Linked DNA regions of Homo sapiens: regions 1, 3 and 4 are each linked to region 2. Evidence: fine-mapped expression QTL. A gene starts in region 2. Each other region holds a variant in brackets. All regions are shown on one strand. Distances are from middle to middle. Region 1 overlaps TMCO4 (transmembrane and coiled-coil domains 4). Region 2 holds the start of NBL1 (NBL1, DAN family BMP antagonist). Region 3 holds the start of LOC124904816 (small nucleolar RNA U13). Region 4 has its middle 8.2 kb from the start of CAPZB.

Region 1 (7,786 bases), 43 kb before region 2:
CCAGTTCACTTGTATCTTCACCCCTAAACTTCCAGGGCCTTAAGACAAAATTCCTAACCCACCAGAGGATCACAAATGAAGCCACCCTGTGCCTTCCTAACTGGGAGCTTTGGGGACTGGGGTAGAATAAGAGTCATTTCTAGGCTCATCCATTTATGAAACTGGTTGCTCCTGGTTAAAGAGTCTTCACAGGGGCCGGGTGCAGTGACTCACGCCTGTAATCCCAGCACTTTGGGAGGCCAAGGCGGGCAGATCACGAGGTCAGGAGATCGAGACCATCCTGGCTAACACAGTGAAACTCCGTCTCTACTAAAAATACAAAAAATTAGCCAGGTGTGGCGGTGGGCACCTGTAGTCCCAGCTACTCGGGAGGCTGAGGCAGGAGAATGGCATGACCCCAGGAGGTGGAGCTTGCAGTGAGCCGAGAGGGTACCACTGCACTCCAGCCTAGGTGACAGAGCAAGACTCTGTTTCAAAAAAAAAAAAAAAAAAAAGAGTCTTCACAGATAGACTTGGCTCACATGCTGTAAACCTCGCAACTCCCTAGAGGAGGTATTAAGCATCCCCAGATCATAGATTGGGAAACTGAGACTTGGGAGCATGGAGTCATAGCCAGAGTTGTAGGTCTGGACTCTGAGCCCAGCTTGGAAGCTGTGCTGCCCACTTCTCTGTGGGAATGAGGTAAGCTGAGTCACAAGACCAGCAAACCACAGTGACAGGAATTTTCTCTCAGCCCCTTGGCCACACTTGCAGCAGGGGCACCCCATCTACTCGGTCCACCACACTCAGCCCCTTGCAGGAGGAAGCACATGAATGAGCAAGTGTGGGCTCTGGCTGACCACTCCAAACACCGACACAAGAGCAAGCTCCATGCTGGGCCTGTGGCCAGACCAGGCGTGTTGCCTCGAGGGGAAAGTGGCAGCACCTGGGCAGGGGTACCCACAACCCTGAAGCCCCAGAGGGGGCGTTAGTGTGCTAATTAGCTGTTTTAGTTCCACCATTGACGGCCCAATAGACGGTGGTGTATTAACAGCTCAGTCGGCCCCTGACCCCATCACGTGGGGCAGCTGCCCTCCACTGATGAGGGCAAAAGGCCAGTATGACAGCCTTTCTGGGTACCCACACTCAGTGGGTCCCAAGCTCTTGTCCAGCATCCAAGAAGAATGAGGACACGCTGATAATTGAAGAGTGAGCAAGGCGAGGAGTTTTATTGAGTGATGAAACAGCTTTTTGCAGAGAGGGGATGAGTGGATGGTTCCCCTACCCAAAGGCAGGAAAGTCCCCACAATGTGGCTGAGTCTGGGGCTTTTATGGGCTCAGAATAGGGGAAGTGTGGGCAAACAGGAACAGAAGTTCTCACTCTGGGTCACAGGTTTCATGTGGGACCAGCAGTCCAGTCTTTCAGCCTTCAGGCTGTTTTTTTGGCTTGAAGGTGGGGTTTCACCAGGGACCCACCCCGTCTGCCTAGGCATTTGGCTGCCTCCTGTCACCATCAACAGGGCTCAGAGCTGATGCCTCCTGACCCATGTCCAGGGCTCTCTGTCCTATTCAAGGTGCCTGCACCCTGAATGGGGTGAAAGGGAGCAGGGACTTTGTGCCTCAGCACCCCAGGAGTCTCCCTTTGCCAGAAGAATCAGAGATAAAAAGCATCTGCTGAAGAAAGTAGCTTTTAATGCTGCAAAGCCCTCACAAGATCTGATTTCTACTGGGAATGGGATATGGTAGGAAGAGCACAGCCTTTGGCACCAGAGAGGCATGGCTTAGAATCCTGGCTCTGCCACTGGTTTACTGGCTGTGTGACCTTGGGCCAGTTACTTAACCTCTCTGTGTCTCAGTGTCCTCATCTAGGAAATGGTGGAAACGCCTAACTTCCAGGGCAGCGCATGTAAGATGCTTGGTGCATAGTAGGCCCTCCTTTAATCCTAGTCCCTCCCGGCCTGCCCCTGCCACCACCCCCAGTTTGTTTGCCTCTGGGACCAGCAGTTTTGGAGACTCCGCTCCCTCCTCAGGCTGTCTTCGTGGCAGCTTCCCAGCTCCTGCCTAATAATAGCTCTTTATCACATTAGGAGTACATCACAAAAAACAGTGCTTTCCTCTTCTGGGTAATTAGAGGTAATTAGCACTGCCTTTGTGCTGGCCTCCTGTTTTCCTTGAAAATGCTTTGCTGGAGAAGTTGCTGGCAAGGGAGGTTTCATTACTGCTGTTGGGGAAATGCTGGCCACCCTCTGCTCCCAACAGAGACCCACAGGACCTGTCTTCTCCCTGCTGGGCCAACCACGCAGCAGGGCCCTTTGTGATCATCCCACTGGGCTGGCCCTGTTGCAGGCAGGGCGCATCTCTGGGGTGAATGAAGCTGCCCTCCTGCCCCTCAGTCTCTCCTCACAGGGACAAGGTTACAGTGGGTGGGGGATTTGCCACCCCAGGGACCAACTCATGAGGCTTCTGGGGCACAGAGATCCAACCCACGGCAAGATTCTCCATGTCCCAGCAGAAATGCCAGGTGGCCTAGAACTTAGCAAAAGGCTTGGCACAAAGTAGATACTTGATAATAACCGCAGTAGCCAACAACTCACATGTTTTACGGGGTAAGTCATTTGATCCTCATAGAGGTCCTGCATAGTGGTAGTAACCCGTTGTACAGGTGTGAAAACTGAGGCTGCAGGCGGTGCCACGGCATGTGAGTGGTAGAGCCGGATGAACCTGGGCTGTTAACCACTGCTTCAGTACTGCCTGCATTCACACATCTCTGTAGCTTCTGGTAGTGGCCTCTAACCCTGTGCCAATAAGCCTGTTACATGTATTATCAAAGCCACACAGCCAGCCCACGTGGTATAGGTCTCTTTATTAGCCTCATTTTATACATGAGGAAATTGAGGTCCAAGAAGTGAAAGAACCCAAAGGGGCCTGATGGGCTTGGAAGGAGTCACTGGGGCAGATGGAGGTGGGTGATGGCAGCCTCTGTTTGGGTAAGTTGGGGTGTCTTTTGAGGCAGGAAACAGGAAGGGCTGGGCCCCATTTGTACCTGC[A/G]GGGATCTGGTTCCCACGGAAACCCCACGATGTGCGGGGCTGGCTGTGGGGCACAGAGGTGAGTGAGAAGTGGTCTCTGCTCCCCTGCGCTCAGTTTATCAGGGAACGCAACCTCATGAGCATGTGACGATGACAGGTTATGAGTGCCATCACAGGGTGTCCACAGAGGCCCCTGCCAACACGGGAAGCCACGGAAGGCTTCTGCACGCCAGTCACATCCGGCGTGTATCCAGGCAGCTGGCAGATTCAATCAAGACAGCCTGGGAGATGGTCAGGGGCTGAATCTTCACGCAGTATCGGCTACACCAGAACTTTCTGGTGCTGAGAAGAGGCTCTTTCCCGACCTGCCTCACCCCTCTTCTCTCATCTCTCCAGCTAACTGTAAAACCAGAGCTCTGCCCAGCAACTGCTCCCCTGGGTCTTTGCAGAGGGGTGGCTCAGGGACTAGGGTTGCCTGAGACCCAGACCAACTTGTAGTCGAGGAGGGCCAGAGCTGTGTGTTCTAGGACAGCTCTCAGTGGAATTTCCATCTGGTATCAGCTGCAGCCAGTGGGTACCAACACCTCCCTTCCTTCCTGGCCTGTTTCTACCCAGCACTGGCACCAGCCATCTACAACATTAAAAAGGTATAGGGAGGCAGTTCTTGTTTGTCCTTAGAGAGGCAGTTATCACTTGTCCCTGTGGGTCTGAAGTTTCTGCTGGCTGGAATTCAGATGTGATGGCTGGAGCTTGAGCAGCCATCTTGGGCTCCCAAATGGATCAGCCCAGCTAACTCCCTACTCTCCATCCCCCACTCGTAGGAAACTAAGGTAAGGGAACTCATATTTACAGAGTACCTCCTGGGGTGCCAGGCACTGTGCTTCATGGTTTGTATTATTTCTTCCCAGCAACTCCTTTAGGTAGGTATCACTAACTCAAATTGCATGATGTCTCTTTAAAAGTGTTTGGGGCAGGGCATCGTGGCTCATGCCTATAGTCTCAGCAATTTAGGACGCTGAAGCAGGAGGATCTCTTGAGCCCAGGAGTTTGAGACCAGCCTGGAGAACATAAGAAGTCCCCATCTCTACATTTAAAATTTAAAAGGCCAGGTGCAGTGGCTCACGCCTGTAATCCCAAGCACTTTGGGAGGCCAAGGAAGGCGGATCACCTGAGGTTGGGAGTCCGAGACCAGCCCGGCCAACATGGTGAAATACTGTCTCTACTAAAAATACAAAAATTAGCCAGGTGTGGTGGTGCACATCTGTAATCCCAGCTACTTGGGAGGCTGAGGCACGAAAATAGCTTGCACCTGGAAGGCAGAGGTTGCAGTAATCCAAGATCATGCCATTGCACTCCAGCCTGGGCAACAGAGCAAGACTCCGTCTCAAAAAAAAAAAAAATTAAGAAAAACAAAAAGTGTTTTGGATCATATAGGAACATAATATCAAAAGCTAGCATTCTCTGAGTTCCTATGAAGTGCCAGGCCCTTGAACTCCTTATAGCAATCATTCAAGGTCATGACTCTCATTTTACAGATGGGGAAGCTGTGGTTCAGGAAATTGTGAGGACTGGCCCAGTTACTGGTAAGAGACAGAGCCAAGGCTGGTACCCCAGCTTTTCAGAGAGTCCAAACTTAGGTTCCTTCTCAGGCCCTGCAGCCACTAAATATGTGTCCTGCTGCAGAGGGGCACTGGCTGTGCCTTGACAACCACCCTGAGCCCAGGGCCCTGAAAACCACTTAGATGTGTGAATACACGTGTGTGTATTTTCCCTGGAATCTGTTTAAAAGCATTCGTGAGGAAAGGAACGAGAGGTGGGCAGATTCTAGTGGTGAGAAAATAACAAAACTGTACAGGGAATTGTCTTTTCGTGTTTTTGAAAAATCATTTGATTAATACAGTGTGATTTGCAATTCAAATGGAAATGCAGATGTTACCAGCAGTGTCTTTGTGCTGTTTTCTGAGATTCCCAACAACAGCCTCCCTGGTGTTTTTCCTGTCCTTTTTTTAAAAAGAAAGCCTTCCCCTTCAGCCTTAAAGGAAAGTCCGGTCTCATGCGCATCTTTGGCACTAAAGCAGGCCCCCTCGACTGGCTGGGTATAACGTGAGACTCCATCTCAGGGGCAGATCCAGGCTGAGCAGCTTCTGCAGGCAGCATCTCAGGCTCAGCACCAGACTGTGCTGTTCATGCGCTGTGTGTCATTAAGCAAACCGCCACCCCTCTCTGGGCTTTGCTGCCCTTCTCTGTAAAGTGAGGATGATTTTTAACCTTCCTTCCTTCCCCAGCTGATTTTCTCTGAAGAGAACAGGCTTTAGAAACAGGCCTGGATGGCCGGGCGCAGTGGCTCACGCCTGTAATCCCAGCACTTTGGGAGGCCGAGGTGGGTGGATCATGAGGTCAGGAGATCAAGACCATCCTGGCTAACACAGTGAAACCCTGTCTCTACTAAAAATACAAAAAAAATTAGCCGGGCATGGTAGCGGGCACCGTGGCAGATGCCTGTAGTCCCTGCTACTCGGGAGGCTGAGACAGGAGAATGGCATGAACCTAGGAGGCAGAGCTTAAAGTGAGCCAAGACTGCACCATTGCACTCCAGCCTGGGCAACAGAGCGAGACTCTGTCTCAAAAAAAAAAAAAAAAAAAAAGAAACAGGCCTGGATTCAAATCCCAGCCCTGCCAAGTTCTAGCTGTGTGACCTTGGGTAAGTCACTTTACCTCCGTGTGGCTCAATTTCATCTACAGTGAGCAGCCGACACCTAGCAAAGGAGTATATCCAAGAAGCTTATTTGCTGCAATGTATTAAGGACCTACTACGTGTCAGGCATTGTCCATTATTACATCTAGGCATCAGGCATTTCAATCACACCCCTACTTGTTGCTCACCAACATATCCCAACACAAAAATGGGATGAACGTATGACTCTGACGAAGGGGGTGGCCACTTCTGAGTTCTTGGCCTTTGTCTTAGTTAAGATGCAGACCCATATAACAGAGGCCCTGCTAATGTTTTTTGTCTGTTTGTTTTTTCTGGAGACAGGGTCTTGCTCTGTCGCCCAAACTGGAGTGCAGCGGCACAATCAGGGCTCACTGCAGCCTCAGCCTCCCAGGCTCAAGCCATCCTCCTACCCCAGCCTACATAGTCACTGGAATTACAGGCACACGCCACCATGCCCAGCTAATTTTTGTATTTTTTTGTAGAGACAGGGTTTCCCCATGTTGCCCAGGCTGGTCTCAAACTCCTGGGCTCAAGTGATTTTCCCACCTTGGCCTCCCAAAGTGCTGGGATTATAGAGGTGAGACACTGTGCCTGGCCTAATTGTCTTAAATACACTAGGGTTGATTCTGTCACATAAAAGAAATCAGAATAGGCCATTTAGGGCTGATGTGCCACTCCACAGTCTTCAAGGACCAAATTTCCCTCTTGCTGCTTGTTCTGCCTTCCTTAGTGGGCTGACTCATGGCCCAAGATGGCTGCTCAAGCTCTGGCCATCTCGTCTGAATTCCAGCCAGCAGGAAAGAGGACATGAGGGAAGAAGAGCACTCCTCCTCTTAAAGAGAATTCCAAGGAACACCACATCACACTACCGCTTCAACTCATGGGCCAAAACTAGTCACAGTGCTATTCCTAGCTGCAAGGAAGCCTGGGGAGTGTGCCCAGCTATAAATGTGAGTCCTTGTGACTAAAGAATAAACGGCAGAGTGAGTTGTAGCCAGCACCTTGCAGTCTATGCTGTAGCTTTCTTTCCAATTTGAGGACTTTTCCAGGGAAAATCCTCACAGCCAACCTCTGGTGAAACTACCCTTGTGTTCCCCTTTTTACAGCGGAGGAAGTTGAGAGCCAGAGGGGTAGAGGGGTAGAGGGGCTTGACCAAGGTGTCACAACTAGTGAACAGCAGAGCCCTTCTGGAGTAGCCTAGAGCTGCAGGCATCAGCTGGGCACAGTGCCTCAGGCCTGTAATCCCAGCACTTTGGGAGGCTGAGACAGCAGGATTTCTTGAGGCCAAGAGTTCAAGACCTGGGCAACATAGGAGACCCCATCTCTACAACATTTAAAAATTAGCCAGTCATGGTAGCATGCACGTGTAATCCCAGCTACTCAGGAGGCTGAGGTGGGAGAATCACTAGAGCCCAAGAGGTCAAGGCTGCAGTGAGCTATGGTTGTACCACTGCACTCCAGCCTGGACGAGAGAGAGAGAACCCATCTCTCTCTCTCTCTGTTTTCATTTTTCTTTTTTCTCATGCTATTTTAACAAAAAGCCCATCCCTTAAAAAAAAAAAAAAAAAAAAAAAAAGCTGCCGGGCACAGTGGCTCACGCCTGTAATCCCAACACTTTGGGAGGCTAAGGCCAGTGGATCACTTGAGGCCAGGAGTTCGAGACCAGCCTGGCCAATATGGTGAAACCCCTTCTCTACTAAAGATACAAAAAATTACTGGCATGGTGGCACACGCCTGTAATCCCAGCTACTCAGGAGGCTGAGGCAAGAAGATCACTTGAACCTGGGAGGTGGAGGTTGCAGTGAGCCAAGATTGCGCCACGGCACTCCAGCCTGGGCAAGAGCCTGTCTCAAAAAAAAAAAAAAAAAAAAAAAAAAAAAAGCTTCAGACAAAGAACGAGAGCTTCTACTCCACCTTTCTGTTTATCAGGAGATTCCTTCCTGCCCCAAAAGGATCCAGATTTTTTAGAGAAACATCCTTCATCTTTATTTAATAAATTCTAGAACAGCTTTGAACATAGAGCCTTCCCACCCACTCTGGATTTGAGAGCCACTGAGGGATGGAG
Region 2 (5,000 bases):
CACCCAGGTCAGGCCCCGGCTCTGGTCAGCCCAACCGGGTTTCCTGGGCTCACTCTGGGGTTTGAGGATGAGTTCTGGCCAAAGCTCATACATTGGCTTTCTGTGTGCCTGGAGTCAGGAGAGTCTAATGGTTATAGCTCGAGCCACTGACCATTTGCTTCCCCCCTCAGCTTCACGTTTGCATCTGTAAAATGGGCAGCCTGGCCTGGGAACGTCCATTTCAGCAGATCCCCCAGGGAGGAGCCTGGCTCCAGCATACTGCTTAAGGCCGCTGTGATTCCACGACCCCAGTCTCACGGCAGGGTGGCTTTTCCTTCCTTCCTTCAGCACTGGGGAGAGCATGAGTCAACTGTCCAGAGGGCGGACACACAGGGCCGACCCCGTGCCACCCAGGCCTGCCTGCATCTTCCAGCCCTGACCACCTCTGTGCCAGCCCCCAAACCCAGGCCACGGCCCTCCTTACCGCAGACCCTCCTGCCCGCAAACGAAAAACAGTCTCCAAAACAAATCCATGCTAATGAGCTGCTGCAGGGCCAGGCTGCACATCTGCTCAGCAGAAGTTCCACTGCAGACCTCACCAACAACCCTGCCCGCTCCGGCAGCCTCCGACCCTTGAGGTTGTGGGTGGGGGGAAGCAGCTAAACTCAGCCTGAAATTTCACTTTAAAATAATGAGGCGATATCCCTGGCCGATGCAGAACACCTACTCCCCTGTCCACCCCTCCAAAACACAGGCCCGGGAGAGAGGTCCAGCTTGCAGGGGTGGGTGGAGAGGGGTAGGGGTCACCGAGGAAACGCTGCAGCCTCGCCTTTTCTTTGGCCCCAACTCAAGGCAAACCACGCCCAAGCAGCCCCAGCATCTGGGGGAGTCTAGGGAGGCCCCATTCCGCAGTAACAAAGGGTGAGGGGCTCCTTGTTGACAAATTGCTTCCCCGCCAGCGCCCGGTCTTTGGCCTCCAGCCCTGACCTCTGTTTTCCTGGGGTGCCCCTAGTTACAGGCTGGTGGCGTCCAGCTTGGGGAGCGAGGGCCTCCGAAAGCCTGGAAGTGTGGCTTTCTCCCTTGATGCCCGCCAACCTCCGGCCACGCCAAGGCAGGCGGCTGCCCCCTTTGCCGCCGCTTGTAAACGATCAGAATCGCCCCGCCCTGGGAGCGGGCCGGGCAGGTGGCCCGCAGCAGGGCCTGTCGTCCAGCCGGCCTCGCGGGGGTGGAATTCTTAAGAAAACTGAGCCCCCGGAAAGGCTGGCTCTCCCTGCCCCAGACTCAATTCCAGGGAGATGACCCGGGCCAGGCCTCGGGGCCGGCGGGAGGCAGGGGGAGGGTTTGCCGCACCCGGTCTAGGAAACTATTCGTGAACCCCGCTGGGGGAAGGCGAGCCTCCGACACTGGGGGATTGTCTGGATCGGAGGGCGGGGGATCAGGGAGAGGCGCAGACACAGGGCGAGACCCCCACAGAGGGCAGCGCAGAGACAGAGAGAGGGAGAGAAAAGCCAGAGGCAGAGACACAAACGCGGGCAGCCGAACACGGAGGCAGGCGGGGAACGGAAAGAGACGGGCAGACCAGGGGAAAGTGAGCGGCGGAAACGGAGCGACGGAGAGACAGACACACGGACGTGGGGACCGAAGCAGAGGGGGCCGCGGGAGGCGGAAACGTCCAGAGCCGAGAGGCGCGGCGCGGCGAGGCCCGGGCACGGCCGGGGGACATGCGAGCCCGGCCCGCCCGGCCACGCATCTCCCTCCCTCGCTCCCTCTCTCCCCCGGCCGCGGAAACTCCGATCCAGAAACGGAACCCTGGGGCGAGTCTGGGGACGGGCTCCGGACGCGGCGGTGCCCCCCGGCCACCCCGTGCCGCGCCCACGTCCCCAGCGCCGGCGTCCGGAGGCGCCCGCCAGGTCCCCCAGGGCTCCTGAGCTCGGCGGCGGCGCCTCCACCCGGTGCCCGCGGCCGCCGGACGCGCCGGGGGACGCAGCTCCGGGCTGGGGGCGCGGCACTGCCCCCGCGGCCGAAGCCTCTGGAAGCCGGGCGCCCGCGTGCCGACCCGGGCGGGACTTACCGCGCGCGCCCGCCGGTCCTGCGGAGCTGGGTGCGGGGGTCGCGGGCCCGGGCGCCCCAGGAGGCTCGGCGAGGCGGCCGGCAGGGCGGGGGGCGGCCCCGCGACGCTCGGCTGGGCTGCGCTGCGCGCTGTCTGCGGCCCCGGGCGGGCGCGCGGCGCGGGGGAGCGGCTCCGACGTCAGGGTGGCTCCCTCCAAACAGGGCGCGAGGGCGGGGGCAGCGGGGAGGGCCGCGCGCAGAAAGAGCGGGCGGGCGCGCGCGGCCTCTCCCTCCGGGTGCGCAGGAGGGGGCGCCGCGGCGGCAGGGGCCCCGGGCCCTCTCCTGGCCCGCCCGCCCCGGGCTGAGCTTCGGCGCGCTCCGACGGCGTGGTGGGGCGGCCGGGACGCCTGGCCGGCGCCCGAGAGGCAGGGCAGCCCAGCCGGGCGCCCTGGCCCGTTCTTAAGCGCCCTCCCCGGGTTTCTCTGCGCTTCCACTCTCTCCGCCCGACTTTTACCGAGCCTGGGCCGTCAGGCCGTGCCAGGCCTCGGGGTGACAAAGATGGATGTGTCCTTTTTGTGGGCACCGGGCATTGCAGACTTGCCCCGAGAGTGGGGCGCCCCAGCCCGCCGCGTCCCGGCACCAGGAGTCCCCAGTTCTGCGGTGCACCTCATCCCGTCCGCTCCGGCATGCGACCCGGTTCAAGTCCGTGCTGTTGGTAGCCTGGGTTGCTCAGCCTTGCCTAGTGTTATCCTAGTGTCGCTCTCGGCCCCACGCCCTTGGCTTAAGCATCCCGAAAAGCCCCAGGGACTTATTAGGAACTAAAAAGCCAGCAAATGAACTCACTTCTCTGACTCCTGGGAAGAGTGGAGCTCCTGGCCCCAGCTTCCAGCCTCACCTCGGGGGTTCCTATCTAATCAGTGGGCACTTGGGTGGATTGCGGCCGTACCTTCTCTATTCTGTGTGCTTAACAACGGGGTGAGAAAATAACTTTGCTTCTGGAAAGTGGTGGCCCAGGGACACCACTGGGACACGATTGTAGGACTTGGGGATTTTGCTTTACAGCATAGTTACCTGTGTCCATGTGTTTTACCTAGCTTGGCTGGAAACTTCCAGATAGACACAGCCCTGCTTGTCTGACTCATGAGGTTGCCGGGCATCCTGGGTGGCTCCTAGTGGCCTGCTGGGAACTCCCTGGTGTACTCCAGCCTACTCGCACCCTCCACACCCAGCCTGCATCTGCGCCTCCTAGCTGTTGCCTGCGCCCTTCCCTCTGCCCGGAATTCCCTTCCCCTCCTTTCATCTCTGGCAAACATTCTTCCAGCTCCAGATTGGAAAGCCTTCCCAAGACCCTTTGGGAGCATCTCCCTCCTCCAGTGTGATCCTGGAGCACAGGATGAGAACTTCTGTTCATGTCAATTTCCCTCTAGAATAACTGTGTACATCTCTTGGGCAAACATTCTTCCAGCTCCAGATTGGAAAGCCTTCCCAAGACCCTCTGGGAGCATCTCCCTCCTCCAGTGTGATCCTGGAGCACAGGATGAGAACTTCTGTTCATGTCAATTTCCCTCTAGAATAGCTGTGTACATCTCTTTCCTCCATTAGACCTTGAGGGCAGGAATCGTGTTTATTTCAGTGTCTCCATTGCTTATGGGCAGGCCAGGTGAGATGTACAATGTATTTGGTTGAATGAAGTTGTTGTTGTTGTTGTTGTTGTTGTTATTATTATTATTATTAGAGACAGAATTTTGCTCTTGTTGCCCTGGCTGAAATGCAATGGCGTGATCTCGGCTCACTGCAACCTCTGCCTCCCAGGTTCCAGCAATTCTCAGCCTCCCGAGTAGCTGGGATTACAGACGCCCACCACCACGCCCAGCTAGTTTTTGTATTTTTAGTAGAGATGGGGTTTTGCCATGTTGCCCAGGCTGGTCTCCAACTCCTGGCCTCAAGTGATCCTCCCGCCTCAGCCTCCCAAAGTGTTGGGATTATAGGCATGAACCACCACGCCCAGCGAATAAAGTAATTATTATCCCCCATTAATGTAGCACAGATAGGTCTTCCCTTAATGGTAACTATGACCGTTATAATAGTTCACACATATTGAGCACCTTACCATGTGCCTCATCCCATTGCAAGCTGTTGCCACTCTCACAATAAACCTATGAGGTAAGTATTGTCTCTGTTTTAAAAGTGCCAGGCGCAGTGGCTCATGCTTGTAATCCCAGCACTTTGGGAGGCCAAGGCAGGAGGATCACTTGAGGTCAGGAGTTCGAGACCAGCCTGGCCAATATGGCGAAACCCTCTCTCTACTAAAAATACAAAAATCAGCCAGGTGTGGTGGCGTGTGCCTGTAGTCCCAGCTACTCGGGAGGCTGAGGCAGGAGAATCACTTGAACCTGAGAGGCGGAGGTTGCAGTGAGCCGAGATCGCACCACTGCACTCCAGCCTGGGAGGCAGAGTGAGACTCCATCTCAAATAAATAAATAAATAAACAAACAAACAAATAAAATAATAAAAGTGAAAAAAATCCCGAGGCTGGAGGATCACTTGATCCCAGGAGTTTGAGGCTGCAGTGAGCTATGATTGTGCCACTGTACTCCAGCCTGGACAACATTGCAGAAGGCTAATTGTGGAACCTAATGAGCTTGTCACTCCAGCAAGGCCTTGTCTCAAAAAAAAAAAAAAAAAGTGAAAAAAGGAACGTCAAGAGAAAGGTTAAGTAACTCGCCTAAAGTCACACAGTAAGAGCCCATGCCAGCTAGTGTCTGTTGGATAACTATATACCATGTACGGCAGAAACCAGCCTCACTGCACTGTACACAGTAGACACTCAGGAAATATTTACCATTTTGCAGCCAAAGCTTACCCCCGCCATCTTTCATGCAGACCCCGAGCAGGGTAGAAAGTAGAGTTCTACATTTTGTAAGAATCCACTCCCACATTGCAGAAAGCTAATTGTGGAGCCTGATGAGCTG
Region 3 (8,147 bases), 110 kb after region 2:
GGAGGATCACTTGCTGAGCCCAGGAAGTTGACGCTGCAGTGGGCTGTGATCATGCCACTGTACTCTGGCCTGGGCAACAGAGCAAGACTCTGTCTCAAAAAAAAAAAAAAAAGAAAAGAAAAGAAAAAAGAAGAGGCCAGGCAAGGTGGCTCACATCTGTAATCCCACCACTTTGGGAGGCCGAGGCAGGAGGGTCGCTTGAGCTCAGGAGTTCGAGACCAGCTTGGGCAACACAGCGAAAACCTATCTTTACTAAAACTTCAATAGAAATACAAAAATTAGCCAGGCATAGTGACGTGCGCCTACAGTCCCAGCTACTCAGGAGGCTGAGGCTGGAGAATTGCTTGAGTCCGGGAGGTGGAGGTTGCAGTGCGCTGAGATCCCACAACTGCACTCCAGCCTAGGTGATGGGAGTGAAACCTTGTCTCAAATAAAAAAAATTTTTAAAAAAAGGGAGAAGAAGAAAGACAATAGCAAATAAGCAAATGAAAAGATGTTCATCATTGTATGTCATCAGGGAATTGCAAATCAAAACAACAATGAGATATCACTACATATCTGTGAAAACAGCTAAAATCCGAAGCACTGATAATGCAAGTGAGGACGCAGAGCAACAAAAACTTTTTTTTTGAGATGGAGTCTCGCTCTGTCGCCCAGGCTGGAATGCAGTGGCACCATCTGGGCTCACTGCAACCTCTGCTTCCTGGGTTCAAGCGATTCTCCTGCCTCAGCCTCCTGAGTAGCTGGGATTACAGGCGTGCACCACCATGCCTGACTAATTTTTGTATTTTTAGTAGAGATGGGGTTTCACCATGTTGGTCAGGCTGGTCTCGAACTCCTGACCTCATGATCCACCCGCCTTGGCCTCCCAAAGTGCTGGGATGACAGGCATGAGCCATTGCACCTGACCTCAAAAATTTTCATTCATTGCTGTTGGGTATACAAATGGTACAGACAATTTGGAGGACAACTTGGCAGTTTCTTACAAAGCTAAACATAGTCTTACCATATGATACAGCAATCACACTGCTAGGTATTTACTCAAATATGGTGAAAACATGTCCACACAAAAACCTGCACATGAATAGCAGCTTTATTCATAATCGCCAAAACTCGGAAGCAACCAAGATGTCCTTTGACAGGTAAAGAGATGAACAAACTGGCACATCCACACAATGGAATATTAATTCAGTGATAAAAATAAATGAGCTACTGGCCGGGCGCAGTGGCTCATGCCTGTAATCCCAGAGCTTTGGGAGGCCAAGGTGGGCGGATCACCTGAAGTCAGAAGTTCGAGACCAGCCTGGGTAACATGGCAAAACACTGTCTCTACAAAAAATACAAAAACTAGCCAGATATGGTGGTGTGCACCTATAGCCCCAGCTACTTGGGAGGTCGAGGTGGGAGAATGGCTTGAGCCCAGGAGGCGGAGGTTGCAGTGAGCTGAGATCTCACCACTGCACTCCTGTCTGGGTGACAGAGCAAGACCTTGTCCCGCTGGGTGCGGTGGCTCACGCCTGTAATTCCAGCACTTTGGGAGGCCAAGGCCGGGGTGGGGAGGGGCGGATCACCTGAGTTCGGAAGTTCGAGACCAGCCTGACCAACATGGAGAAACCCCATCTCTACTAAAAATACAAAATTAGCCGAGCGTGATGGTACACACCTGTAATCTCAGCTACTCGGGAGGCTGAGGCAGGAGAATATCTTGAACCCAGGAGGCAGAGGTTGCAGTGAGCAGAGATCACGCCACTGCACTCCAGCCTGGGCAACAAGAGCAAGACTCCGTCTCAAAAAAAAAAAAAAATATATATATATATATATACACACACATATTATATATAAAATTAGCTGAGAGTGGTGGTGCGTGCCTGTAATACCAGCAATTCGGGAGGCTGAGGCAAGAGAATCGCTTGAACCCAGGAGGCGGAGGTTGCTGTGAGCCGAGATCGCACCACTGCACTCCAGCCTAGGCGATAGAGTGAGACTGTCTCAAAAAATAAAAAGAAAGAAAGAAAAAAAGAAATTATGTTCCTTCTGCCTCACATCCAATTGATAGCTTGGCTGGGAATAAAATTCTATGTTAATGATATTTTTCACTCTTAATAAATTCCCTTTCTAATTAAGTCAACTAGAGCTGACTTTTGAGTATTTTGAAGATACCATTTGTTGTTGTTTTTTGCCTTCTAGTTTCTAATGTTATTATTTAGAAGTTCAAGGCCATTCTAATTCACATATTTTTTAAAAAACAATTTTATTGATGTATAATTAATACACCCCAAGTCTTTTTTTTTTTTTTTTTTTTTTTTTGAGACAGGATCTCACTGTGTTACCCAGGCTGGAGTGCAGTGGTGCAATCACAGCTCAACTGCATCCTCCACCTCCCAGGCTCAAGTGATCCTCCCATCTCAGCCTCCCCAGTAGTTGTGACCACAGGTGTGAGCTACCATGCTTGGCTAATTTTTGTTTTTGTTTTTGTAGAGATGGGGTTTCCCCATGTTGCCCGGTCTGATGTTTGAAGTCCTAGGCTCAAGCGATCCACCTACCACGGCCCAAAGTGCCAGGATTATAGGCATAAGTCAGCGCACCTAGCCATACCCCAAGTCTTTAGATGTGGCATTCTTTTAGGTTTCCTCCTCTCTCTCTCTGAAATCTTGTTAGGTTCTTCTCTACCTCTCCTACCTCTAGCCCAATGGCCACAAGTTTCCTGGGGCTATTCCTCCCACATCAAAACACAGTTCTCCATACTCCGTAAGGTTTAAGGAATCATAATTATAGAATGTCCCTGCTTCTTTCATTCAGCCAGTGATTTATTGAGCATGTACTGGACAATTGCTGGACAATTGGCTGAACTGTCTTCTAAGTCTGGGTTTATAATGGGTCAAAAACACAGGGCTCCTAACCTCAGTGGAGCTTATATTACAGCAAAGAAATTTTGCTACTTTTTTTTCTTTTTTTTGCGATAGAGTTTCATTCTTGTTGCCCAGGCTGGAGTGCAGTGGCACAATCATGGCTCACTACAGCTTTGATCTCCTGGGCTCAAGTGATTCTCCCATCTCAGCCTCCTGTGTAGCTTGGACTACAGGTGTGCACCCCACAGGCCTGGCTAATTTTGTTCATTTTTTTTTTGTAAAGATGGGGTCTCACTATGTTGCCCAGGCTGGTCTTGAACTCCTGGACTCAAGTGATTCTCAAGCCTTGGCCTCCCAAAGTGCTGGGATTACAGGCGTAAGCCACCACATCTGGCCTGACATACTATATTTGTTTACTTGTCATGTTTACGGTCTGTCTTTCTTCATTAGCATGTAAGTTTCCCAGTGGCAGGGATTTGCATGCCTTTCATTCCTGTCTCTTCAGCACCAAGTACGGTGTGTGGCACATAGTAGGTGTTTCATAAGCACTTGCTGAGTGAATAGGTAGCTCTGTGTGGGAAATAGTTTGGTATATTTGTGCAACAGTAGAAGGCCAGTGGATGGGACAAGGGAGCAAGTCAGTGGGGCAGGAGGGGAGCTTGGAGGGGTGGTCAGGGGGCAGACACACAGGCTGCTAGGCCATGGAAATGAGGGTGGATTTAAACAATAATAGAAGACCTTGCAGGGGTTTTAAGTAGCAGAGTGACATTATCTAATTTGTATTTTTAAAGGGTCACAATGGCTGCCTTGTTAGGCCCGAATGTAGGGGTCCAGAGTAGTAAGTAAGGGGTAGAAAAGAATCAACCAGCCAGGCATGGTGGCTCACACCTGTAATCCCAGCTACTCAGGAGACCAAGGTGGGAGGATCGTTTGAGGCTGAGAGTTTGAGAACAGCCTAGGCAACACAGTGACACCTTGTTTCTAAAAAAAAAAATAATAATTAAAATATTAGCCAGGCATGGTGGTGGCATGCACTTGTAGTCCCAACTACTCAAGAGGTTGAAGTGGGAGAATCGCTTGAGTCTAGGAGCTCAAGGCTGCAGTGAGCCATGATTGCACCACTGTACTCCAGCCTGGGTGCCAGAGTAAGACCCTGTCTCAAAAAAAAAAAAAAAAAAGAAAGGAAAGGAAAAGGGCAGGCACAATGGCTCACACCTGTAATCCTAGCACTTTGGGAGGCCAAGAAGGGAGGATTACTTCGGCCAAAGAAGGAGGATCATTTGAGCCCAGGAGTTCAATACCAGCCTGGGCAACATAGTAAGACCT[T/C]GTCTCTGTAAGATAAAATAAAATAAAAAAAGAAAGAGAAATTAAAAGAAAAGAGCCACCCAGTTAGGAAGCTACTGCAGTAGTCTAGGCAAGAAAAGATGTTGGCTGAGATCCAGGTGAGGGCAAGAGCAGATGGAGAGAAGCAGCCAGAATGCAGACTCCACAAGAAATCTGCACTTCATCCTGTCGCGGGATCCTCGCCACACACTGGGTGTGGGTTTATAGACCTCTTTTAGTGATACCTCTTCTAATATCAAATCCAGTTTGGCAGTTAGTGTTCCAGCTAGACTCTACAAGGGATCGGAGGAGGCTAAATTAGATCCTGCCAGCCAGGTCTCAGAAGCTATGACCAAGAATGCAGAGGAATCCCTGCCCCAGCCTTCAAAGTCCTCCAGCCAGGAAATACCCTTCCCTGTACTTGGCTCCTGGCTGATAAGCCTTGTTATTCCCTGGATCTATCCCATCCTCTCCATCTCCAAGGCCACTTCCAGACCCTCATCACACTTGGCTGCACAAGTGATGGCAGCGTCCCTCTTCACTGGCCTCTCTGCTTCCAGTCTTCAAATCCACCCTCCCCAGGGTTGACTGAATGAACATCCTAAAACCCAAACCTAATGGAGTCCCTTTTCTGCTCAAAACCTTTCAGTGACTGCCCATCACGTCCAAGATGAAACGCTAGCTCTGTATCGTGGGATGCAAGACTCTCCTCCGCTGGACACTTCCTTCTCCTCCAGCTACGCTTCCTGCCCCTCCCACTTCACTCCCACTTGACCCCCAGCCTCACCCAGCACTTGGTGCTCCTCCTTCCACTTCCTGCCTTGCTGGTGAGGCCTGGCTTAGTCTCTTCCCTCTGCCTAGGTAACTGTTCCCAGCCTCTGTTGTGTGGTTACTTCTCTCGCCTCACAATTAGCTCAGGAAACACTGCCTCCAAGAGTCCAGGAACCCTCCCTTGGCCTCCCCTGTCTTGTGCCCCCAGTTCACCTGGCGTGGCAGTACACCTCTGCTGCTGCTCTGGGGTTTTTTTGTTTTTTATTTTTTTGAGACAGGTTCTCATTCTGGTCGCCCTGGCTGGAGTGCAGTGGTGCAATCTCAGCTCACCTCAGCCTTGACCTCCCGGGCTCAAGCGATCCTCCTCAGCCTCCCAAGTAGCTGGGACTACAGGCGTGTGCCACCATGCCCAACTAATTTCTGTATTTTTTTTTTTTGAGACAGGGTCTTGCCATGTTGCCCAGGCTGGTCTCAAACTCCTGGGCTCAAGCAATCTGCCCGCATCAGCCTCCCAAAGTGCTGGGATTACAGGCAAGAGCCGCTGCACCTGGCCAAGTGAATGCAGCAGCTACTGCTCTGAACTGTTGTTACTAATTGGTTTGCTTGTCTTCCCCAACTGGACCATGAACTCCCCAAGGGCAAGGACCTTGGCTACTCATCTTTGTGTGCTGGCCTTGTCTACAGTGACTGGTGCATAGCACATGCTTGGTTAAAGACTGTTGAACTGGCTGGCCTTAGCCACACCGCCATACCCTTAGGACAGCCTGGCTAAGGTCCTCGTGGTGAAACAGAGAGAGCTAGCCAGCCCATCTTATTTATTTATTTATTTTATTTTTATTACAGATGGGGTTTCACCATGTTGGTCAAGCTGGTCTCAAACTCCTGGCCTCAAGTGATCCGCCTGTCTTGGCCTCCCAAAGTGCTGGGATTACAGGCATGAGCCACTGCACCTGGCCAGCTTGTCTTTTTCAGCCCTGAGCTGATGAGGCTGTCAAATGTCAACCTCAACGCTCTTCCCAGCCTCTCTTTTCCACCTCAGGCAGAGTTTGTCTTCAGATGCAAAGGCCTATAAGTCTTCTCTCCAGTTAGTGCTGAGACTTCGCCAGCCACAGAAGGGATTCTGACATCGCATCCAAATAAGGTGAAAGGATTAGCTGTTGTTAAAACAGTGTGAGAGCTGTGAGTAAGGAAATATTCTCTCTGAGATGGGCCCTGCTGAAATATACAACACGAGCCTTCCAAATATGAGCTACTGACTGGAAAGAAGCCTGCTTGTTATGGAGCCTGAATCTTCCTCCCCAGCCAGGGATCTGGTGATGCCAATCCCGCTGAGGTCTGGTGTTCATCGGAGGTCAGGATGCAGCCCACCTGAGACCTTAAGGGGTAGGGGGTCCTTCATTAGTTAGCAGGCATGGTTTAGTAACAGTAACATCACCAATAATGTGTGGGATTCAGGGTTTCTGAATAGTGCTAACATAATATGGAGAATGAACAGTCCGAAGTCTCCATGAGGAAGGATTGATAGAAAAGAATTCGTTCAACAACCTTTTATCAAGAATAGTCATATAAGATCCTTTTGCAGTTCATGAGCATGATGATTGGGTGTTTATGTGTATGTGTGAGATCTGCCACTCTCTGAACCTTGTTACAACATTGTCACATTACCCGTCTAACCTGAAAAAAAAAAAAAAGTCATATATGGGCCAGGCATGGTGGCTCACACCTGTAATCCCAGCACTTTGGGAGGCCAAGGTGGGCAGATTGCTTGAGTTCAGGAGTTCAAGACCAGTCTGGGCAACATAAGGAGACCCTGTCTCTACCAAAAAATATAAAAAATTAGCCACGGGTAGTGGTGCACAACTGTGGTCCCAGCTACTCAGGTGGCTGAGGCAAGAGTATCGCTTGAACCTGGGAGGTTGAGGCTGCAGTGAGCTGTGATCATGCCACTGCACTCCAACCTGGGTGGCAGAGTGAGACCCTGTCTCAAAAAGAAAAAAAAAAGTCATACAAAATGTATAACTTATCTATTGCTGTGTAACAAATTATCCCTAAGCACAGCAGCTTAAAGCAATATTTATTTATCTCACAGTTTCTGTGGGTCAGGAAATTGGGAGTGGTTCTGCTGAGTGGTTCTTATTCCTGGTTGCATGAGAGTTTGCAGTCAAATCATCAGCTGGGGCTGCCATCATCTGAAGGCTTGACTGGGGCTGGAGGACCTGCCTCCATGATGGCTCATTCACACAGCTATTGGCAGAAGGTCTCAGTTCCTCATGACATGACCCCTCGCTAGAGCTGCTTGAGAGTGCTCATGACATGGCAGCAGCCCTCTGCAGGAGCAGGCAATCTGAGAGAGAGAGAGAGAGACCAAGACAGAAGCCTCAAGGTCTTTTGTGACCTTGGTCTTGGAAGTTGTACACTGTCACTTCCACTTTATTCTGTTTGTTACAAATGAGTTACTAAATTCAGTTCACAGTCAAGAGGAAGGGAAATAGGGTCCACCTTTTGAAGGAAGTGTCAAATTGTGGACATATCTTAAACCACCTCATCAAATCAAAAAGAAACAAGAAACCTGAAAGTCTTGAGGCTGCTAAAACTCCTGCTGCCATTAGGACAATGGGAATTTAGTATGAAGAAAAGAGTCCTAGATTGACAGTGATAGCAAGATTCATTCACTAATTCATCCATCCATTCATTCATCCACTCATTCAACAGCTATTAATTGACCATTACTGTGTGCAGTTGGAAAACTCTATTATATGCTACAGGGCTCAAGAACAAACACCATTATAATTAAAATAACCATTGCTAGCTGGGCACAGTGGTTCATGTCTGTAATCCCAGCACTGGGAGGCCAAGGCGGAAGGATCGCTTGAGCTCAGGAGTTTGCGACCAGCCTGGGCAACATGGTGAAATCCTATCTCTACAAAAAATAAAAAAATTACCCAGATGTAGTGGTGTGTGCCTGTAGTCCCAGCTACTAGGGAGACTGAGGTGGGAGGACCATGAGCCTCGGAGGCAGAGGCTTCAGTGAGCCAAGATTGCATCACTGCACTCCAGCCTGGGTGACAAAGTGAGATCCTGTCTCAATAATAATAATAATAATAATAACAACAACAATTGCTGGCCTTTATCTAGCACTTACTGTGTGCCCAGTACTACAAAGATCTTTGGATTTAATTATCTCATTTAATTATCCCAATAACC
Region 4 (7,779 bases), 150 kb after region 2:
AGGTCAAGGCTGTAGTGAGCAATGATTGCACCACTGCTCTCCAGCCTGGGTGACAGAGTGAGACACTGACTCAAAAAAAAAAAAAAAAAAAAGAATCAGTTTGTGAGTTTATATACAAAAACTTGCCGGGATTGTGATTTTAATTGCATTGAATTTATGGTACATTTTCAGGAGAATGAACATCTTGATGATATTGAATCTTCCAATCCATAAATAGGGTACATCTTATTGATCTAGATTTTTAATTTATCTTGGCAATGTTTTCTTGTTTTCAGGCCTTGTACATCTTTCATTAAATATATCCTGAGTGGCCGGGCACGGTGGTTCACGCCTGTAATCCCAGCACTTTGGGAGGCCGAGGTGGGCGGATCAACTGAGGTCGGGAGTTCAAGACCAGCCTGACCAACATGGAGAAACCCCGTCTCTACTAAAAATACAAAATTAGCCGGGCATGGTGGCACATGCCTATAATCCCAGCTACTAGGGAGGCTGAGGCAGGAGAAATCATTTGAACCTGGGAGGCGGAGGTTGCGGTGAGCCGAGATCATGCCATTGCACTCCAGCCTGGGCAACAAGAGTGAAACTCCATCTCAAAAAAAAAAAATATATATATATCTATATCTCCTGAGTATTTTATATTTTTTGATATTATTATAAAGATATTTAAATTTATTTTACAATTGTTCATTGCTCTGATCTTTTATTCCAGCCTTTCACTAGATTTTTCTCAAGTCCTACCACTTTATCAGGTCCTATGTCAGTTCTGCATGTAGTTTAGCTTCATTTGGAACACTGCAGTGTCTGACTGGAATGAGAGATGAGGATTTTGGAGAAGTAGAGGATGGCTGAGGTTTGCATCCTGGATGACTGGAGGTTCTCTGGCTCACAATTTGACAGGCTTCATTCATATTGTGCCATATCCCAGGTTCCATGCTAATTGTTAGTGATATGACTCACAGTCCCTGCCTCAAGGAGCCATAGCGCAGTAGGGACCAAGTGAAAAGTGATCTGATAAGGTACACAAAGTAGAAGTTTCCATGGCAACACAGAACAGGGGGTCCCAAACCCAGCTTTTGAGGGGACTGTCAGAGATATTACCAGGATAAGAGGGTGATTATGCTGAATCTAAAGGAAGAGTCAGCATTAGACACATTGTAGAGTCCAGCCCAACCCTGGTGGGTGACTGGCTGGCCAGCTTAATACACTAAACGTGAAGTTTCCCAAATATGCATATAAAAACTCCAACAGCTGGCCTGCATGTGAGAGGCCCTTCCATAACTCTGACCAAGACCCCGTAGATGGTCAGGATACAAATACTTCTGGTCCAGCAGAAGGCAGCTGTGAGTTCTCCCAGGTACCTATTAGAAAAGCAAAAGCAAAAACCCTGAGATGATTGTGTCTAACCTCAGAGTAAAGTATCCTCTTGGCACTGAAGACTTTGGGGATGCATTAAAAAGAAGTGGATTGCTAGTGGTCTGTCCACCTCCCTGCTCCCTGCTACATGTACTTTCAAGATGCTGAAGGCTGGAAAAAGTTGATCTAAGCTGTCTAGCTGAGGCTGCCTCCTCTACAAACCACACAATTTTCTGTCTTCAAAGGAAATCAGCATTTTTTTTTTTTGGCCTGTACTCAGTCCTGCTTAAGGTTTCAATGACTAGAAATTTCTGAGACCACAAATAAGTCTGTTTCATTCACTTGCCAGAGCTTACTCAGGATGCCCGTAATGCCCATCTGTTTCTTTCTTTCCTTCTCTCTACTTTTCAGCAGCCCTTCTCCTTCTTTTGGTAACAGTATCCTGATTTCCCCCATCATCAGGGAAACAGTTTCCCTCCCTGATCATCAGGTCCCCATCTGCCAGCTCCAGGGCTGAGGCCACTGGTAACTGAAGAAATGAACATGGCTGAAATTGCCTAAGGAAAAAGGGCAAAGTTAGAGAAGGAAAGAACCTGCTACCAAATCTCAAGGAACTCCATCGTTTAGTAGGTGTGTGGAGGAGAAGGAGTCTCCAGAGAACCCAGAGAAGGAGCGTAGAGGTAGGATTAAGACTAGGAGAGTCACATGATGTCATGGAAGCCAATGGGAAAGAGTGCTTCAAGGAGGGAGGACGTGGCCAAAGCACCAGAGGCTACTGGGAAGTTACAGGAGGTGAAGTTTGAAAACTGTGCATGTGGCCCGGCAAGGTGGCTCATGCCTGTGATCCCAGCACTATGGGAGGCTGGGAAGGGAGGAGTGCTTCGTGCTTCAGCCCAGGAGTTTGAGACCAGCCCGGGCAACAAAACGAGACCCTGTCTCAAAAAAAAAAAAAAAAAAAAATTTAAAAGAAAGTTGTGCATGTGACCTTCAACATGAAGGTTATGGGTGACCTCAGAGCTATTTCAGTGGAGGAGTTACGTAAGCGAATGGGAGGTTAGGAAGTGGAAGGAGGAAACACAGACAATTCTCCAGCTGGGAAAGGGAGGAGGTGGCGGTAAGCTGGAGAAGATGAGGAATTCACGTAGGTTTCTTTCTTTAAAAAAAAAAAAATCAGAACACTTAGGCATGTTTAAAACCACAGTAATCATTAGTTGAACAATCTGGGGAGAGACAGGATAATTGAAGTGTAAGGTTCTTGAGAAAATAAAATCCCCAAGAGGGAATATTGTTTACAGGATTTCCCAAACTTACTTGGTGAACTGCCCCTCTTCAGGCCGAGTTCATTTTGATTACTGTTCCGCAGAAAGCACCCTGGCCCAAATTAGGTCAGGGGCTGATCTGCAAACCAATTAGCATGGCCAAGGCTATACTTTGACTTTGGTCAATCAGAATCCTCTCTTCTAGAGCTGGGGGTGGGCTGAACCCCACCCAAACTAAATGTCTGAAAATGAGACAGGGTTAAGTTGTAGGAAAGAGACGGTATTCATACCTGGGAGGTACCCCAGCAGTGACCTCGAAGCCAACTGAATGATGGTGCAGATGGCCTTGCCATGTGGTGTTCCCTCCCTCTTGGAACTCTTGGTAACAAAGATTCTTTTTTTTTTTTTTGAGACAGAGTCTCTGTGGTCACCCAGGCTGGAGTGCAGTGGCGTGATCTCAGCTCACTGAAACCTCTGCCTCACAGGTTCAAGCAATTCTCATGCCTCGACCTCCTGAGTAGCTGAGATTACAGGTGCACACCACTACGCTCAGCTAGTTTAAGTATTTTAGTAGAGATGGGGTTTCACCATGTTGGCCAGGCTGGTCTCGAACTCATGACCTCAGGTGATCCGCCCACCTCAGCCTTCCAAAGTTCTGGGATTATAGGCATGAGCCACCATGCCCGGCCGGTAACAAAGATTCTTAAATTGAATCCCATTGAAACTTCAGTATATGGAGTTAGGATGTTCAGGCAATACGGCTAGCTGTAGAATTCAGTGTATTGAGGGGTTAAAATCTGGCTTATTCTAAGGGTTCTCAGGCATTTCTAAAGACACGGTAAAACACCTAAAACCGTGTTAGTAACTTGAGAAGATGCCCAACTTAGGAAACAGGCCCAGACCTGTTAGACGGGAGGTAATTTAGGAGCTAGGCAATCCCCAGCTCCTGGGATAACTGTGCATTTATTAACCCAATTAATAGATGTAATTGAAGAAGGAAAGACAGATGTTGGGCAACTTCTGGGCAATGTCTGCTTTAATGGGTCCTGTATGAGCTGATTTGGCATAGGGTAGAAGGCTGTCTTTCAAGGACCTCAAGGTTGCTGCTTCCTTCCTCAGGTGATGGTATTATATGGCTTGGGGCTTCCCTTCCACCTTGCCTCAATTCAGAAAATGCTTATGGGCACCTACTATGTGTAATTGCCATTCTATGTGCCGGGATGTGGTAGCACTGCCTTTTGCAGCTTACAAAGCCCTTTCCTACCTATGATCTCAATCTGGTGATTCTGAGAACAGATTTTGAGTCAGGAAGACCAAAGTGAGAATAAATCCATCCACGTATTATGTGTGACTTTAGGCAAGTCATTTCATCTAAGACCCAACTTCTTCTATAAATTGGTAATAATAAAAGTTCTGGCCAGGCATGGTGGCTCACACCTATAATCCCAGCACTTTGGGAGGCTGAGGTGGGGGGATCGCTTGAGCCCAGGAGTTTGAGAGCAGCCTGGGCAACATGGCAAAAATCTGTCTCTACAAAAAATATAAAAATTAGCCAGCAGTGGTGGCTCACACCTGTGGTACCAGCTACATAGGTGGCTGAGTTGGGAGGATTGCTTGAGCCTGGGAGGCGGAGGTTGCAGTAAGTCGAGATTGTGCCATTGCATTCCAACCTGAGACCCTGTCTCCAAAAAAAAAAAAAAAAAAAAAAAAAGTTCCTAACTCAAAGGATGGTTGGGAGGAGTCTATAATACACAAAAAGTGCTTAGCACATAGCAAGTACTCATGAAAAAGTAGCTGTATTATTCATTCTTTGTTTATTCACACAATAATCTTATCCTGTTGATACTATTATCTTCATTCACATACCTTCATTGAGCACTGATTATGTTCTAGGTGAACACCTAGGTCCATAATGACCAAAAGAGGACTCAGATGCAGAAGAACAAGGGTCCCAGAACTAAGCCTTCAGGAAAGGAAGAACCATCAAAGGAAACTCAGGGGAAACTTGAGCACCAGGAGAAGGCTTCCTTTCCACCTTGCCTCCAATCAGGAAATGCTTATGGGCCCCTACTATGTGTAACTGCCATGCTATGTGCTGGGATGTGGTAGCCTTACTGATCTCAGGCAAGCCAAGAGAGGTACATGAAGGAGGAGAAGCCAGGAGTAAGATGAGTCCCCAAAGTGAGCACTGGCTTCTGCAACATCGAGTTCCCAGGTCAGCTTGAGGAGAGCAATGTCTCTTCCTGGGCAGGTGGGGGCAGAGGCCTGATCAGACTGACTGGAGGAGAAAATGGAGCAGGTGTGGAATCAACAACTGCAAAGAATTTACAAGGTTTTGGTGTGAATGAGAGCAGAAAAATGGGGGAAGTGGCTACAGGGAGACGCAGGATCCAGGAGTTTTGAGTGGTGGTTCTTAAAACTTTTTTTTTTTTATGATAGGAGCTATTAGAGCATGTTTTCTGAAGCAGATAGGAATGATCCAGTACCAAGGGAGAAACTGGTGACTAAGGAAGGAAGGATCCAGAGAACAAGTGGAGGGGTGACTCTGATAGGAACAAAAACGCTTCATTTATTGTAAAATCTGGGGAGTCAAAGATTGCGGGGAAGGTGCAGAGATGTTGGTAGATGATAAGCTCCTGTCTGGTTCCATTATTTCTGTGAAGTGTGAGGCAAGGCCATCTGCTTAGAGAGAAGGATGCAAAGGGGACAAAGGAAGCTTGAGGAGGAAGAAGGATGAAAAATCACCATTTAAGAGTGTGAGCAGGGGGCTACAGTGGAGTAATACAGTAGAATTGCTAGGCAGGCTTGAGGGCTCGTTTGAAATTTGTGGACCTCACCTTAAAGGAAGAGCAATCACTTTCAACTTTCCAGCAATGTTCAGATGGTTTTGTTGTTGTTGTTGTTTTGTTTTTTGAGACGGAGTTTCACTATGTCACCCCGGCTGGAGTGCAGTGGCGTGATATTGGCTCACTGCAACCTCTGCCTCCCGGGTTCAAGCGATTCTCCTGTCTCAGCTTCCTGAGTAGCTGAGATTACAGGCGCCCACCACCATGCCTGGATGATTTTGTATGTTTAGTAAAGA[T/C]AGTGTTTCCCCATATTGGCCAGGCTGGTCTCAAACTCTTGGCCTCAAGTGATCTGCCCATCTCAGCCTCCCAAAGCGCTGGGATTACAGACATGAGCCACCTTGCCCAGCCAATGTTCAGATGTTCTGATGAAAAAAGGTGGAGGTAAAAGGGTTCTGGGCTTTTGTAAGGGAGTTAGTATCATACTCATTACTAAGCTGGGTCAGGTGGGATGTGAGCATGAAGGGGAAGGTAATTGTGAAAATCTGGCAGGGACAAAGGTTTGCAGGTCTTGATGAGGTTGAAGAAATAATGAGGTTGAGGAAATGCTTTTGTGGTGATACTATGGTAAGCGGGTTAGACTCAGATTTGAGATCTTTGTGACTGTGATTTCTTTTCTTTTTTGGAGACTGGGTCTCACTCTGTTGCCCAGGCTGGAGTGCAGTGGCACAAACACAGCTTACTGCAGCCTCAACCTCCTGGGCTCAAGAGGTTCTCCCACCTCAGCCTTCCAAGTAGCTGGGACCACAGGTACATGACACCATGCCTGGCTAATTAAAAAAAAAAATCTTTATAGAAATGGGGTCTTGCCATGTTGCCCATGCTGGTCTCAAAATCCTGGGCTTAGCCTCCCAAAGTGTTAGGATTATAGGTATGAGCCACCATGCCTGGCCAGTGTGATTGTGATTTCTGAGATAGTGCAGTTAAAGGCGAGAACAGGCCAGGGTAAGACCACAGGAGTGGGACCTGGAGAGAGGCAAAGGAAACTGATTGGTAGGGAAGAAATCAGGGAGAAGTCAGTAAGATTTCTGGTGGATTATGCTTATGGATGCTGAAGTCCTAAAGAAAGTGTAGAAGGGGAGATGGAGGTAAGTTCATGAAAGCTAAAAAAAAAAAAAAAAGGGTGTGGCAGGTGGAAAAATATCACAGTATGAACTTCAAGGGGGTTAGGGTCTTTAAAAGAGGATGAGACGAGAAACATTGCTAAAGATATTTATGGCCTGGATGTTGTGGCTCACACCTGATATCCCAACACTTTGGGAGGCCAAGGCAGGAGAATCACTTGGGCCCAGGAGTTCAAGATCAGTCTGACCAACATGGTGAGATCCCGTCCCTATTTAAATTATAAAGTTATTATTTATTTATTTATTTATTTATTTATTTATTTATTTATTTGGATACGAGGGTCTCACTCTGTTGTGCAGGTTGGAATGCAGTGGTGCAATCATGGCTCACTGCAGCCTTAATCTCCTGGGCTGAAGGAATCTTCCTGCCTCAGCCTCCTGTGTAGCTGGGACCAGTGGCATGTGCCACCATGCCTAATTATTTGACTTTTTTATAGAGACGGGGTCTCACTTTGTCAGTGAGGTCTCGAACTCCTGGGTTTAAGCAATACTCCCACCTAGGCTTCCAAAGTGCTGGGATTACAGGCGTGAGCTACCATGCTTGGCCAAAAAATTTTAAAATAAACAAAATTTATAGTGCCTGCATACCAATTCACAACCCCTTGTAGATGACCATGTTTAATGCCATGTGTCTCCATGCTCATAGCAATAGCTGATGGATCTAGGGGCAGGATCTGAGCAGTGGGCAGCCAATCTGTGGAGTGACCTGTCCAGTGAATGAACTTTCCTTCAGGCTTGGCCTCCATCCCTTGGTATCCAAGAAGGACACCACCTTTTCTTGGTCCTGTTCCTGCCTCGCGGGTCATTCCTTCTCAGTCTTTCTGCTGGTTCCTCTTTATCTTCATGACCTCTTCTCTCTACATTCACCCACAAAGTGAGTTCACCAAGATGTCTGTGCTTTCAAGTATCTTTACATGCCATTTACTAGCTGACAGTTCTCATAAGTTTATCACAGCTCTAACTTCTTCCCCCAACTCCAAACTTCCATATCTAATTACTTATTTGATATCTCCATTTATTTATTTTTATTTTTATTTTTTGAGATGGAGTATCACTCTGTTACCCAGCCTGGAGTGCAGTGGTGCAATCTCTGCTCACTGCATCCTCCACCTCTGGGTTCAAGTGATTCTCCTGGCTCAGCCTCCTGAGTAGCTGGGATTACAGGCATGTGCCACCATGCCCACCTAATTTTGGTATTTT

What was found. PIP is the estimated chance that this variant, and not a neighbour inherited with it, causes the effect.
Region 1: its variant is the best candidate, but not a certain one, in a credible set for the expression of NBL1 in whole blood (TOPMed, PIP 0.78).
Region 3: its variant is the best candidate, but not a certain one, in a credible set for the expression of NBL1 in thyroid (GTEx, PIP 0.81).
Region 4: its variant is the best candidate, but not a certain one, in a credible set for the expression of NBL1 in naive CD4 T cells (Schmiedel 2018, PIP 0.74).

Annotation. Positions count from the first base shown.
Region 1 is chr1:19,683,575-19,691,360 of GRCh38, reverse strand. All of the region lies in intron 15 of TMCO4 (transmembrane and coiled-coil domains 4), which reads left to right. Among named protein-coding and RNA genes, the nearest start is that of HTR6, 23 kb to the right of the region's middle. RefSeq lists an enhancer at 1,799-2,313. The variant A/G (reference allele first, on the strand shown) is at 3,027.
Region 2 is chr1:19,641,497-19,646,496 of GRCh38, reverse strand. It overlaps NBL1 (NBL1, DAN family BMP antagonist), which reads right to left and starts at 2,186. Exons shown (of 4, transcript NM_005380.8): 1 at 2,051-2,186. All of the region lies in intron 1 of MICOS10-NBL1 (MICOS10-NBL1 readthrough), which reads right to left. RefSeq lists a silencer at 2,101-2,440 and an enhancer at 2,339-3,174.
Region 3 is chr1:19,530,641-19,538,787 of GRCh38, reverse strand. LOC124904816 (small nucleolar RNA U13) reads left to right here and starts at 6,514; the gene lies at 6,514-6,618. It overlaps LOC105376819 (a long non-coding RNA gene), which reads right to left. Exons shown (of 4, transcript XR_947020.3): 4 at 7,001-7,287. The variant T/C (reference allele first, on the strand shown) is at 4,176.
Region 4 is chr1:19,489,835-19,497,613 of GRCh38, reverse strand. It overlaps a transcript of LOC105376819 not described here. Among named protein-coding and RNA genes, the nearest start is that of CAPZB, 8.2 kb to the right of the region's middle. The variant T/C (reference allele first, on the strand shown) is at 5,695.